4 linked regions of the Homo sapiens genome follow. The protein of the gene in region 3 purifies or fractionates together with the protein of the main gene of each other region. This does not show direct contact. Each region holds a gene or a part of one and is shown on either strand. Other genes may lie near its edges.

What was found.
Region 1: the proteins of SOCS6 (region 3) and IARS2 purify together in Homo sapiens (affinity purification with mass spectrometry, with the first as the bait; one large-scale study listed by BioGRID). This does not show direct contact.
Region 2: the proteins of SOCS6 (region 3) and IRS4 purify together in Homo sapiens (affinity purification with mass spectrometry, with the first as the bait; 2 studies listed by BioGRID). This does not show direct contact.
Region 4: the proteins of SOCS6 (region 3) and TIMM50 purify together in Homo sapiens (affinity purification with mass spectrometry, with the first as the bait; one large-scale study listed by BioGRID). This does not show direct contact.

The regions. Positions count from the first base shown.
Region 1 is NC_000001.11:220,142,632-220,146,131, forward strand, and holds part of IARS2 (isoleucine--tRNA ligase, mitochondrial precursor), read left to right. Parts: intron 1-312; coding exon 313-503; intron 504-1,286; exon of another isoform or gene 1,287-1,745; intron 1,746-2,877; coding exon 2,878-3,022; intron 3,023-3,500.
Region 2 is NC_000023.11:108,730,064-108,733,563, reverse strand, and holds part of IRS4 (insulin receptor substrate 4), read left to right. Parts: coding exon 1-985; coding exon of another isoform or gene 986-993; exon of another isoform or gene 994-1,067; intron 1,068-1,666; coding exon of another isoform or gene 1,667-1,671; exon of another isoform or gene 1,672-3,500. UniProt on the Homo sapiens protein: Acts as an interface between multiple growth factor receptors possessing tyrosine kinase activity, such as insulin receptor, IGF1R and FGFR1, and a complex network of intracellular signaling molecules containing SH2 domains.
Region 3 is NC_000018.10:70,323,545-70,327,044, reverse strand, and holds part of SOCS6 (suppressor of cytokine signaling 6), read right to left. Parts: exon of another isoform or gene 3,397-3,500; intron 2,503-3,396; 5' UTR 2,377-2,502; coding exon 769-2,376; 3' UTR 1-768. UniProt on the Homo sapiens protein: SOCS family proteins form part of a classical negative feedback system that regulates cytokine signal transduction.
Region 4 is NC_000019.10:39,487,338-39,490,837, reverse strand, and holds part of TIMM50 (mitochondrial import inner membrane translocase subunit TIM50), read right to left. Parts: intron 2,778-3,500; coding exon 2,621-2,777; intron 2,300-2,620; coding exon 2,193-2,299; intron 1,120-2,192; coding exon 1,018-1,119; 3' UTR 1-1,017. UniProt on the Homo sapiens protein: Essential component of the TIM23 complex, a complex that mediates the translocation of transit peptide-containing proteins across the mitochondrial inner membrane. Has some phosphatase activity in vitro; however such activity may not be relevant in vivo.

The sequences.
Region 1 (3,500 bases), on a different chromosome or scaffold from region 3:
GGGGGAAGTCACTTATAATGTTACTCCTGATAGCTGTTAATATTGGGATATTTCTATTTATTTTTTTCTAAGCATCCTTTTTTTCTTTGAGATCTTATTATATATTTTCTCTTTTGTTTAAATATAACAAAGATTTTCCAATGCTGATATAAATGTTTTGTAAATAATTAGGATGGATCCATAATATTTCATCACTTGATTACCATAAATAACAATTCTTATTTCCCATTAATGGTAACTATTTAATGGTTAGAGCTTCATATACAGTTTAGGATGTTTGTAAAGCAGTTTACTATTTTTGTTCTTCTGAAGAGCCCAAGAGTGTTTTCCGTACTGGGTGGATTAGTACTAGTTCTATCTGGAAAAAGCCCGGGTTGGAAGAAGCTGTGGAGAGTGCGTGTGCAATGCGAGACTCATTTCTTGGAAGCATCCCTGGCAAAAATGCAGCTGAGTACAAGGTTATCACTGTGATAGAACCTGGACTGCTTTTTGAGATAATAGAGGTATGCAGCAATATGTACCTTTTGAAATGGTGTTAGTATCATAGAGCTTTGCCTGAAATTTGCTTTTAAAATGTGTCTAAATTAATCAAATAACATTGGGTTATGTGTAACTTTACTATGCAATTATTCTATTATGTTCCTTTTCACATACTTTTTCACTTTTAAATATCTTTTAATAAATTAAGCAAAGTCATGCACATTTAAAAAAAAGTGTCTAAATTAAAAAAAAATTAATTTAGAAATTAGGGTTTCCGTCTTCTAATCCTGATATCATCACTGATTCTTTTGTTTCCTATTTCACCATATTCTTTTCCATGTCTTGTAAAACGTGTTCTGTGCATGTAACACATACATATTACTGTGTAGGGATAGGGAAGGAATAGATAAAGTTCTGTTTCAAACAAAAGGCCTCAGGACTATTTAGAAGACAGGGGACATATAAATTGATCGCGATCGTCTTTGAATGTATAAAAAATGGGAGTTTTGTATTAAGGGTCAGGTTTCCTGAGAATTTCATCCATCTGGACCAGATTCAAAACAAACCCAAAAAGAGTTTCCATTTTTATTTTGTGAAATCTGGAGAAAATTCATTTTCTCCAGCAAGTTACCACATATATTTCAAAGCATTTATCCTATTTTTATTTCTAGAAGGGCCATCAGAATTTTATTCTTGGGATTTTTAGGGGTTGATTGGCCAGATTGGCTTATAGCTTAACATAATGATGTGATTTTTCTCCAGTCTAAATGCTTAAGAAGAGAATTGGCAATGAATATAATTTTTTTTCCACGGGGCATTTTATTTGTAAATATATGTATTACATCCCTAGAAAAAGAATCCCAGGATTTTCCCTCCTGTGTGTTTTCATCTTGCTTCTTCATGGTCCATGATGCCAGCTGAGGTTGTCAGTACAATGAAACCAAACTGGCGGGATGGAAGCAGATTATTTTGCCATTTTTCTAGATCTTTGCTTTGCACATCAAATCTGGGGCTGATGTCTCCACACTTGTTTAGCCTGCCTGTGAGGTTCACAACAATTTTCCCAGCTCTGTGACCATCAGTGATTTCAAATTTGCCAATGTAACCATGCTTCATCATCACGGTGAGAAACAGGATGATGACTTTGGAGCACGGCCTAATAAGCACCTGGCTTTTGCCTCTCTTTTTGGCATTGTTGATGCTCTTGAGAGCATCAGCCAGGACATTCATGCGCACCATTGTGGTGGTGCAGAAAGACGGTGGAAGAGCTATTTTTTAAAAGTTTTATTAGTGTCAGTTTTCTAAAAAACATCCATCTTATTTTGTATGGTAAGCTCAATTTAAATTTTTAATGATGTAATTAGCAAGATTAAGATTTGAGCTTGAAATAGCTAGTAGGTATAATAGATGAGATTTTCCCATTTTAAAATTTAAAACTTGGGAAGCTGTTCATTTTACAAGTGAGGAAGTGAGGACTGCTGAAGCTGTGACCTAGACAGGGTAACACAGCCTAGTCCTGGCCTTTTTTCCTACATACTGTGTTTCCTTTGTCTTCAGTCTTTCTAAGTAATGAACTGAAAAGAAGAACAGCTTGTTTGGATCAATTTTATTGGAAAAAATACTTTGGGATTTTCAAAAACATGAATGTATTTTCCTTAGGAATCATACCAAGTAGCTGTAAGATGGAGTCCTGGTTCTATCCATTACTAATTGCATAAACTTGTTAAAACCAAATTAATCTCTTTGAGTCTCTTATTTCTCATGGGCTTTAATTTTTAAAGGAATGTCTATGTTGGTTAGCTTACAAACTCACTTTGAAGATCAAAATTACAGAGAAAAATGTGTTCATCAGACAAATTCAGTCTACTTCATAAGTGTTCTGCGTATTGTTCAGATTGCCACTATCAGTATACATTACTAAAAGCTGGTACCTGTTGAGATAGTATTTTAGCCCCTCACCCAATGATACATGAAAAAAAAAAAAAAAGGCTTTGAGGCTGACAGACCTGGGCTTGACCTGCAGTTCCACCACGTATGGGTTGAGAATCTTGGGCAAGTTAACCTCTCTTTGCTTGTTTCTTCATTTGTAAAGTGAGGATAATAAACACCATATAGGTTTTTTTTGTGTGTATGTATGTGACAATTAGAAGTAAGAGACATCTTAGGATCTAGCAAAGTGAAGTGCCTGGCATTCTCAATAAATACTGTTGATGGAAATATTTAGTTAAAACCTTTTATGCTAATTAGGATTGATACATTTAGTGATGTTTGCTCAGGATGCAATGGTATACCAGAAGGTTCCTCTCTAAACGTGAGATTTTATAGTGTTTCTTTTTATAACCTCAGTTTATGGTACAAATTTAACATAAACTGTAACTTTCACATGCTTCCTTCCAGATGCTGCAGTCTGAAGAGACTTCCAGCACCTCTCAGTTGAATGAATTAATGATGGCTTCTGAGTCAACTTTACTGGCTCAGGAACCACGAGAGATGACTGCAGATGTAATCGAGCTTAAAGGGAAATTCCTCATCAACTTAGAAGGTAAGAAGGAGATGAAAGTAACAAGTAACATCTGGAGAATTGAATAATTATAGGTCATCTCCAACTTTCCAGTGGACTGGGTTTATTCTAAAGGTAGATATATACTTGGAATACATCTTTCTATGGAAATAATAAAAACAATTGCCAAGTTTCTAAGCCCGCTCTTAAAACTATCTTACCTGATGATCTTGGGAACTGAGGGCTAGGGACAGAAGAGGGAGAGAGATTTTCTTTCTGTCCTTTGAATAAATAATGGTCACTGTATATGAAGTTTATGTTAGGCTGACTTGCTCCCATTCCTCTTTTGTGTCCCCCTGCTTTGATACTTAGTACCCCAGTACTGGCCCAGTCCTGCCCACTGTTCCCCAGTATTGATTCTAAAATTTCCTATTATGTATACCCCGGATTAAAATATTTAGCCATTCTTGTGAGGGGTTAAGGAGGAAGTTTTATTGAGCTCATTCTAACAATGGTATCT
Region 2 (3,500 bases), on a different chromosome or scaffold from region 3:
AAAAGAGAGAGCAATACACCAGCTCCCTCTACTCAAGGACTACCAGATTCGTGGGGCATAATTGCTGAACCCAGACAGTCAGCCTTTTCTAATTATGTGAATGTTGAGTTTGGAGTGCCATTTCCAAATCCAGCAAACGACCTCTCAGATCTTTTAAGAGCTATACCACGTGCCAACCCCTTATCTCTGGACAGTGCTAGGTGGCCACTTCCTCCCCTTCCCCTCAGTGCTACAGGTAGCAATGCTATTGAGGAAGAGGGTGACTACATTGAAGTAATTTTCAACTCAGCAATGACACCAGCCATGGCTCTTGCTGACAGTGCCATTCGCTATGATGCTGAAACAGGTCGAATCTATGTGGTCGACCCATTTTCTGAGTGCTGTATGGATATTTCTCTCTCCCCCAGCCGATGTTCTGAACCACCACCTGTAGCTAGGCTGCTGCAGGAAGAAGAGCAGGAGAGAAGACGCCCACAAAGCCGTTCTCAAAGTTTCTTTGCAGCAGCCAGAGCCGCTGTCTCTGCTTTTCCAACAGACAGCCTCGAGAGAGACCTTTCCCCATCCTCAGCCCCGGCTGTCGCTTCGGCTGCAGAGCCGACTTTAGCCCTCAGCCAAGTTGTAGCTGCGGCCTCCGCGCTCGCCGCAGCCCCGGGCATCGGCGCAGCAGCCGCAGCTGCTGGATTTGACTCCGCCTCTGCCCGCTGGTTTCAACCTGTTGCTAATGCTGCTGATGCCGAAGCAGTAAGGGGAGCCCAAGACGTTGCCGGTGGCTCGAACCCTGGAGCCCACAACCCATCTGCAAACCTTGCCAGAGGTGATAACCAGGCTGGCGGGGCTGCCGCTGCAGCTGCCGCTCCGGAACCACCACCTCGCAGTCGCCGGGTGCCAAGACCCCCGGAGAGAGAAGATTCTGACAACGACGACGACACTCACGTGAGAATGGATTTTGCCAGACGTGATAATCAGTTCGACTCTCCCAAAAGAGGTCGGTAATTTTAGAATTAATTTCCCTAAAGTGAATGGTCATTGTCTAATGATTCGATGCGCTACAGTCTACAGTGTTAGGGATACTATTTCATTAACTGGTGCTATTCGACATGGAGTATAGAATTCAGTTTTAATTATTCACAAATGCCTTTTTGATCTTTGCAAAAATTTGTTTTTATCTAATCAATTTCTTTATCTGGACAGAACTGATTATCATTTAAACACTGGTTCTACTTTTTTAGGAGTAGTTAAAACGCAGACATAAAAAGCATAAGGATACTTTTAAACATCCTTCCCCATCATTTAATGATAATGTAAAGCAGGATATCGTAAATTGGGTTCCACCAACTAATTTTCAAATCAACAATTAAAAGCTGCTTTTCTGCAAATGCCCATATTTAAGTGTAGGAATTTAATAAGAGCACAGACTATTAAGCAGTAATAATCAACTATTTATGTTTAGGGAGGATAATTTTCTCCTCTGAAAGTTACTTTTTAAAGAGCAGTCGTTGTTGTGCTAGTTTGCTGTGATTTACCAAGAAAGTTAAATCTCAATTGTTAACGTGAATGTCTGGGGGGAACAAAACATAAATAATCCAAAACAGGAGGTGATTAAAAGAAGACAGTATTTGGCTCTGGAATGTGTTTGTGTGTTGATTTTCTTTTTGTTTTTACACAGGATAAATTCCAGAAACCTTGAGTGTTCCTTTTCTCTGTCACTAGTAATGACAGGCAAGTCACATTTGCTGTGCCTCATTTTCTTCTTTTAACCCCCCACCCTTCTAAAAGAGGGTGTGGTGACAACTTGAGAATGGATATGAATATTATTTCAAAGGTTTAAAAAGCAGTTAAAACATTTAATTCATATATCTTATGGGAAATCAAGGAAAGCAAGATAAGGCTGGAGGAAGACCTGACTCCAGGGGCAGCTTACCCTGGAATGGTGGAAGTTTTTAAAGGGCTACTTTTCCAAAGGAAGAAGTAAGGAAGAGTAGGAGCTGTCAGACTTGGAAACAAGACTTAGAGTAATTCTACTGTGTACAACATTGTGGAATGTTGTCATCAGTGTGTCTTGAAACATTTTCAAGAGATGATTGCAGAGGATGATGTCTCCATAGTCTCAACTACCTTGCCTCTTAAGTAGAATATGCTTCTTTCCCAGTGAAGGGAAGGGATGGACCCCAGCAGTTTTCATTCCAGTAGTCAGTTTAGTGAAGATTTTTGCTTTGCTTGCTTTGTGGAATGCTTTTGTGATTGGATCTCTGCCCACTGTGCTTGATCAGGCAGAACAAGTCGGGCACTGATCACAACAGTCACCTAACAAGCTCCCTATTTAATGCAGGTGTAGCCCCCCCACATCCCCTTTTTCTCCCTGCTATAGAAAACTTGCCATACACAAACTCACATTTGCAGCGTGGACACATTAAAGAGTGATCATTAAAACAACAAAAGGATGCTTTGGCTTGCCAAAGGATTCAATTCAGACCTCTTTTAAACTGTGAGTTCCCTCCCCAACACACACACATACACACACACACAAACACACATGATCACCACTGCTACCATAATCATACGTTTAAAATATATAATTTCATTTCCAAGTCTTTAATCCATAATAAGATTTTCAAGAGTAGATCTACTTTATTCTGTAGAATATACCTGAAAATTGATCTCAATCTATTGTTTGAGTCTAACTATTGAAGACACCATTTATAATTTTGATGTAGATGATACACAGTTGCCTGTGTCCCTGTAGTACTTTCAAAAGGACCAGTTTTCATAGAGGTTTATTTTAAGAAGTTTAAGATTTAAATAGTGAAATCTTACTGTTCCTTGAATAAATTCTGACTTCCCAAGGAATACCTAGACACAATGATCATTATTTTAGCATAAATTCCTGATTTATGACTTTGTAGCTATTTTGGAGATTTAACATTCTGTAAATGCATTGTTTATTGAGGAAATTCCTAGCTTTATTGAGTGACTTTAGCAAGGAAGCTCTATCTCACAGGGAGGCAGGCGCTTAGGTTGAAATAAGAGAATCAACGTGGAAGCACTTTGGAATGTTAAAGCACTTTACAAATGTAAGATATTTTTAGTGTCATTGGATTAATACTGAAGTGAAATTTCGGCAGTTTAAACTGATTCAGTTTCTTGCAAAATAATTGATCTTGAGGGTGATTCCTGCACATAATTTGCTGAAATACATGAAAGGAATGGTGGGGATTGCCGGCGGGGGGGTGCGGGGGTGGGGGTGGTGGTGGTGGTGGTGGTGGTGTTGATGGTGGTGAAACAACCCATTGTAGGAAATGACTTTGGTTAGCATTTTAATGTAAATTGTATGGTAGAATGTTGTCTGTGAAGTGTTAAGAACAAGCTGAATGATTCTGATCCTTTTTTATTGTAAAGCTGTAGAATAATTTTCACTCATTTCTGATCTCTATTTTCCTATCTAACATTAAAACAAAAACAATCACGTTAGGAAACAAAAACATAATGCTTTGACAGAGGAA
Region 3 (3,500 bases):
TTTAATTACAGAAAAGGCAACAATTTCTAAATTGGTGGTATACATTTCTTTACAATTTTTTAATGTAAGGCCATTTATTAAAATAGACAAACTAGAAGATGAAAACGAAGGCAACAGAAAAATTCAACTTTTCACAACCAAAAGAATTAGCACAACCTTAGAAATAATTTAGAAAAAAGTGTTGTTAAAAGATATGTTGCAGATCTCCGTTCCATTACCCAAGATTATGTCAATTCACGATTCTAAATAAATCTTTTTAAAGTAAGAGATTAAAAACTCATCTTCAGTGTATATGTAAATTCTGTGTTTTATCACACAGGTATGTTTATTCAACACTGTCTTTTGAAAATGGACCATTTAAAAAGACATAGCAATTTCCATTCTGTTAAGTTTCATTCAACTTTACTTAGGGTTGAATACACATGAAATGTGCTTTTAATGCATAAAAATCACAGTGGATAGCAGCAAAGGACTGGGCGGGGGGGGCATTGAGGAGAATTTGATAATTCACATTGTGATTATTCTGCACATTGATGAAACATAATTCACACCTCTAAAACCTCAAGACTTCCCTTTTTTAAAGAACCAAAATAAACCCAAGACACCTTGCTGACACTTCCCCACCCCTAAACAAACTGATGACTCTTTTACACATAAAACTGAAATAGTTATGGCAGCAAAAGATTTTGATGGCAATGAAAGTTTGTAAACTGTATTTCAATCTCTTGTTCTTATTCCCAAAGTGCAAGATGCAGGGTTCTCAATCTTTCAGTAGTGCTTCTCCTGTAAATAATCCTTCATTTTGTTTGGCAAAGGCAGTTTCTGAATTAAGTCTATTCTGGTATACTGACGTATAACAAAACGACACAGGTACTGCAACGAGCGCACCTGCATGAACCGGGACACTGGGTTGGTCAGTCTGACGGGGTAAGTTGCAGATCCAGGCAGCCGAGACCTTGAATAACAAAAAGCTCCATTTTCAGAGTCCCTGATTGAATGCTCAATTAGATCAACTATGGACGTATGTCCTTCCACATCTGGCTGTTCATAAAAGCTAAACCTACCATTTGAGTGCTCAATTCTAGTGTGAAGTGTTTTACCATGGGAGCGAAAGCTCAAGCTTAAAAGGTAACGGTCGTCAGAACTGTCCCGAACAAGAAAAGAACCATCTGGCACGTTTGCTAGCTTCCCTTCTGCCTCCCAACGTGTGATTGGTCCCCAGTACCATCCTTGCTTTGCAAGTTTTTTCAGCTCCTCTGTAAGGCTTGTCACAACCATGGGACCACTACTTTGCACTGAGTCATAAACTCTTGCAACCCCAGGAGCAGAGTTCGGATCAAAATTCAAATGACAGCGCATACTTTCAGCCACGTGGGCTTCTGTGCCAGTGAGTCCACTGAAGTTCCTTTGGATTTGATTATTCTGCATTGGAGGTAGCAATGGTGAGAGTGGAGGGACATCATCGTGACCCGCTCTCGGGCTCTGCAACATGACTCCCGTGGTGCCAATCAACAAGCCATTCACGGACTGATCCACGAAGATCTCTGGGGCGACAACTAGGTCCTGGTCTACCTGACTCTCATCCTCGGGGAAAGCGCGCCCTCCCACTTGAGGAGGAACCGCAGAGACTTCCATGGGAGAAGAGCTGTCCAGACAATAGCTCCGTGATCCTTCCAAAGGATACATCCCCTCATCTAAAGGCACAGTATACTGAATGTAGTCCTGAGGCATAAGTCCAATAACGACAGGCACATGTTCATCCAGGTGAAGATGCAGGTCTCCATTATGAGAAGCCGAGCTCTTCAGTGAATTGGCTTGCTCCTGGCACGTGGTCTCAGACTGGAGGTCGTGGAAATCCTTCCGGACGCCATTCAGGGCTGGACTCGGGCTGGAAGAGTGAACCAAGGCCTTGACTCTCACCTCCATCTTGATGCAGGTCTCCTCGGAGTTTGTGGGCCGCAGAGGCCACGGCGCGGGACTGTAGTGATGGCTGCGGAGCGACGTGGACCTTATCGGCCTCTGAGCTCTCACGTCTTTAAAGACTATGGGTGCTGAGGAGGAGGAGAAGGTGTCCTCGTCGGCAGAGCTCCCAGAGGGTGTGCCCGCCTTGCCTTTTGACTTCTGTTTTGCAGAAAGCCGCCTTTTTAGCGTACCCATCAGGCTCTCGCTTTTTGATCTGTTTTTTCCGCCTTTTTCATCTTCACCGTTGATATCGCAGCTGGCCATATCTTTACCATAGCAGCTACCAAATAAGGAATCATCTTTTCCAAAGTCACTGGCTAGCGATGGTTGTTGTACTACCATGAAATCAGTTTCTTCTTTACTTTTATTCAAGTTAAAAGATTTCCGTAAGGTTTTAAGACTAATTTTCTTCATTATGACTAGTTACCTAATCCAAGGGATCAATATTTCTATCTGGAATATTATCCCCAAACATCTGGAGAGGCTGCAAGGCTGCATCTATGTATTTTTCCTGCTTCATTTAACCTTTGGAGCCATTTTCTAAAAAATAAAAATATAAAAAGAGTCATATTAAAAAATATTTCCACAAAAGTTTTGTTTTAGTCAGTTTTAATCCTTTAACTTCTGAACGAGAACACCCCAGTCTTTTCTTAATGTCAGCTCTGTTAGGACCGGGCTTTCTTTCTATTGCACCCAGCAGAGCAGATCACTGCCTACTACACAATGAGCATTTGGCAAGTATTTGATGATGTTTACTTTATTATTATTATTATTATTATTTTGAGATGAGTCTCACTCTTTCGCCCAGGCTGGAGTGCAGTGGCGTGATCTCGGCTCACTGCAAGCTCTGCCTCCTGGGTTCACGCCATTCTCCTGCCTCAGCCTCCCAAGTAGCTGGGACTACAGACGCCCACCACCACACTCAGCTAAGTTTTTTGTATTTTAATAGAGACGGGGTTTCATCGTGTTAGCCAGGATGGTCTCGATCTCTTGACCTTATGATCCGCCCGCCTCGGCCTCCCAAAGTGCTGGGATTACAGGCTGAGCTACCATGCCCCGCCCGATGATGTTTATAAAGAACAAGCCTGCATCTACCTTTTGTTCTTTTGGCACCTTGCTTTTTGGTATAAACTCTAACGTGTGGGCCAGTGTCCACATCCTTCCCAGCTGGACTCTAGCTAGACCTGTGCACTCCTTCAGCACTGACTCCGACTGCTCCTCCGCTGCCTGCCATGTCCCAGCCTGTGTCCTGGCACGACAGTAAAGGCGTTCCATAGAACTGCAATAACAAGCCTAGTCAACTCAACAACTGATGCATATTTTAAATACTTAAGCTTGTGTCAAAATAAACAAAAAGAATTTCATTATCTGTAATAAACTATCTAGAGATGTTCCTCTATACTCGAGAATTCCTTGAGAACAAGAATCATTTACCTTCAAGTTCCCAATGCACAGAGGAGGAAGAAGCTCAATGCGCGCAGGTTGAAAAGCTTCATCTCTGAAGTACACCCATAAAAACCCATGTGTCTAGTTTTGAT
Region 4 (3,500 bases), on a different chromosome or scaffold from region 3:
CATGTTGAGGCTGGTCTTGAACTCCTGACCTCAGGTGATCCACCCACCTCAGCCTCCCAAAGTGCTGGGATTACAGGCGTGAGCCACTGCGCCCCGCTAGGAGCCAACATTTTAAAATAGGGAGATTTAATATAAAAATCCCTATTTTAGCTGGGCACAGTAGCTCACACCTGGAATCCTAGCGCTTTGGGAGGCCAAAGCAGGAAGATTGCTTAAGACTAGGAGTTTGAGACCAGCTTGGGCACCAAGACCCCATCTCTACAAAAAAAAAATTTGTTTAAATTAGCTGGGTATGGTAGCACGCACCTGTAGTCCCCAGGAGGGTACTCAGGAGGCTGAGGCAGGAGGGTCACTTGGAGATCACTTGAGCCGGGAGGTCAAGGCTGTTGTAAGCTAAGATCACATCAATGCACTCCAGCCTGGGCAACAGTGAGACCCTGTCTCAAAAAAAAAAAAAAAATATTCCCAAGTTCTTGCTTCTTTTGAACAACTGGCGTGTCAAGCAACTCCAGGCCCCCTTTACCCCAGGGCCACACTGGCTGGAGCCAACCAGCAGCTGGCCTGTTGAGAGGGGTAATCTCTGGTCCACCAGAGGCCCACTAGGCCCATAACACATTCTCTCCACAGTAGCCTGGCAGCTACCTGTCTTTAAAGCCAAGTGCCATCCTCTCTTCCCTTCTCCACAGATGAGGAGTCTGTGGTCAGAGGGAGATGTATTTTTCACAGATCACGCAACACACAGGAAGACACAGCGAGGGTTTTTAGATTCCGAGACCAGGGTGAAAAATCTGCTCTGATCCAACAAAGCACCCCCACTGTGCTTGGCAGCCGATCAGCCACTGTGGGACGATGACCCAAGAGTCCCGGACCTCACCCTGATGCCCCCATCTGGAGACTCTCGGGACACAGCAGGTGTGGCGTCTGGGATGTACTTTATTGGACAAGTGGTGGCCCAAGTCTTGGTCTGGAAGCACTGGGGCCCTGGACCCAGGCACTGAGTTTGAGGAGGCCCAGAGTTCAGGGCTGTTTGGAGCGAGGCCACAAGCGGCTGGTGAGGGAGCCAAGGAAGAGGTTCTGCTTGTTGGACTTGGAGAGCTCGGCCAGGCGCTGCTGCTCCTCCTGGGGTAGGGGGACAGTTGGAGGAGAGGGTCAGCGCAAGGTGGACAGAGCCTCCTCCCAGATGCCCAGGTCCCCAGGCCTCAGCCCAGGGACCACCTTTCCTTCTGACTTCTGCCAAGTCCAGACCCCTTTCCCCAAACCCTGGGGCCCCCAGCCCAGACACAAGGGACCCTAGACCCCAGTCCCCCCACCCCAGACACTAGGAAGAGCCAGCTCTGAGCCGCAGGAGCCTAGGCTTCAATGTTTGGGGGACGACAGACTCCAATACTAGGCACTCGAGGTATTCAGGCCTGAACTGCAGTAGGTTCTCAGGCCCCAGACTGTCATAATCTCCTTCCCCAGATCCCAGGGACCCCTCCCCTGAGCCTGAGATCCTATCGCAGACCCTGTTACCCCAAGGTGAATGCTGGTGAGATCCCAGGTCCAAACCCCATGGCCCTCCTCACCAGACTGCATCATCCTGCCCCTGGGCCCTCTGAGCCCCATGACCCCTCTCTGGATGCAGGGGTGGGGGGTTCCCTGGGGGGTCCCCAGGCCCAAATCTCTAGGGACTTCTCTGGGCACTCAGGGGCTCCCAACTCTAGGAACCTAACCTAGAATCTGGTGAACCTCAGCCTAGACCCCTGGGAATCTTACCCAGACGCAATCCATACTCTCAGTCCCACTTCCAAATTACCAGGGTCCCACCAAGACTATCACATCTCTCCCCACAGCCTTGGGCCACGTGCCCAGGGAGCCTCTTTCCAGGCCTGATCTAAAACCCACAATCCACCTCCACAAGGTGCCCCCAGACCTACTCAAGACCATCAAGGGCAACCCCTCTCCCAGCCTAATCTCAAATCCTCTCCTGTTTCCTGTTCTCAGAGCAGGCTGCAGAATCAATGCATCCCCTCATTCTGGCAGCCCTACAGGACAGGCTGTGTTATATCCCCCTGGTTACAGAGACTGAGGCAGAGAGGAGGTATCTGCTCAGGGTCACACAGCCAAACCAAGAGTGTGGAGATGGACTGCCCCAGGCTCCTCCTTCAGGAGCCTCAGAGCCGATCCTCCACTCTGGGCATCTGAGCACCAACCTGCTCTAGCCGGCTTTGCCGCTGTTTGAAAGCCGCCAGCGGGTCATCCTCCAGGGCATAGTGCTCCAGCACGGTTCGCACGTCCTCCACACCATTCAGTGCAATGGCTGTGGGCACAACAGGGGGTGGTCAGCCAGGCTTCTAAAGGCCAGAGGGAGGCAGGGCCCATGAGGGGAACGTCCCGCACTGGGGCACGGGGGCAGTCAGTGCTACCTGGAATGCTTCTGAACGCTCTGAAAGGGCTCCCCTGAACATCCCCAAGTATCCCCCAAACATTCCATGAACATCCTAAGAAGCTCCTAAAGACTCCAAGGTGCTCAGGCACCTCTTGCACCTCAGTCGCCCAGCCATGAATCATGCATTTATCCTTCCTCTTCAGAGTCAGGGGCTCTGGGGTCAGAGGCCAAGGGATCAGGGGTCAGCCTTACTCTTGAGGAAGGCAGACAGATCCAACAAGACCCGGTCATCAGAGTTGCCGTCCCAGGGCCGCAGGGCAACGCCGTTATAGGGCTGCAGGCGGAAGGCTTCCTTCTTGCAGTCCACAACTACTACTCGAGCTGGGTCCCGATTCAGACATGAAATATCCTGGAAGTGAGTGACAGATCAGGTCAACATCTGTGCCCAACTCTCCCCCCATCAAGAAGACCCAAAACACACAAAACATACATACATACACAGCATCACACATACTGGGATCACAATGGCAGGGCCTCTCAAAGACCGGCTTTGGATGATGGCATCGACCCCCACAGAGGGCCAGGCATGGTGGCTCACGCCTGTAATCCCAGCACTTTGGGAGGCCGAGGCGGGCGGATCACCTGAGGTCAGGAGTTCAAGACCAGCCTGGCTAAAATGGTGAAACCCCGTATCTACTAAATACAAAAAATGGCCGGGTGCGGTGGCTCACGACCGTACTCCCAGAATTTTGGGAGGCCAAGGTGGGCAGATTGCCTGAGCTCAGGAGTTCAAAACCAGCCTGGGCAACATGGCGAAACTCTGTCTCTACTAAAAATACAAAAAATTAGCTGGGTGTGGTGGTGTGTGCTTGTAGTCCCAGCTACTCGGGAGGCTGAGGAAAGAGAATCGCTTGAACCTGGGAGGGGGAGGTTGCAGTGAACCAAGATCGCGCCACTGCACTCCAGCCTAGGCAACAGAGCGAGACTCCGTCTCACAAAAAAAATAAATAAATAAAAATAAAAATAAAAATTAGCCAGGCATGGTGGTGTGTGCCTATAGGCCCAGCTACTCAGGAGGCTGAGGTGGGAAGATCGCTTGAGCCCAGAAGGTTGAGACTGCAGTGAGCCATGT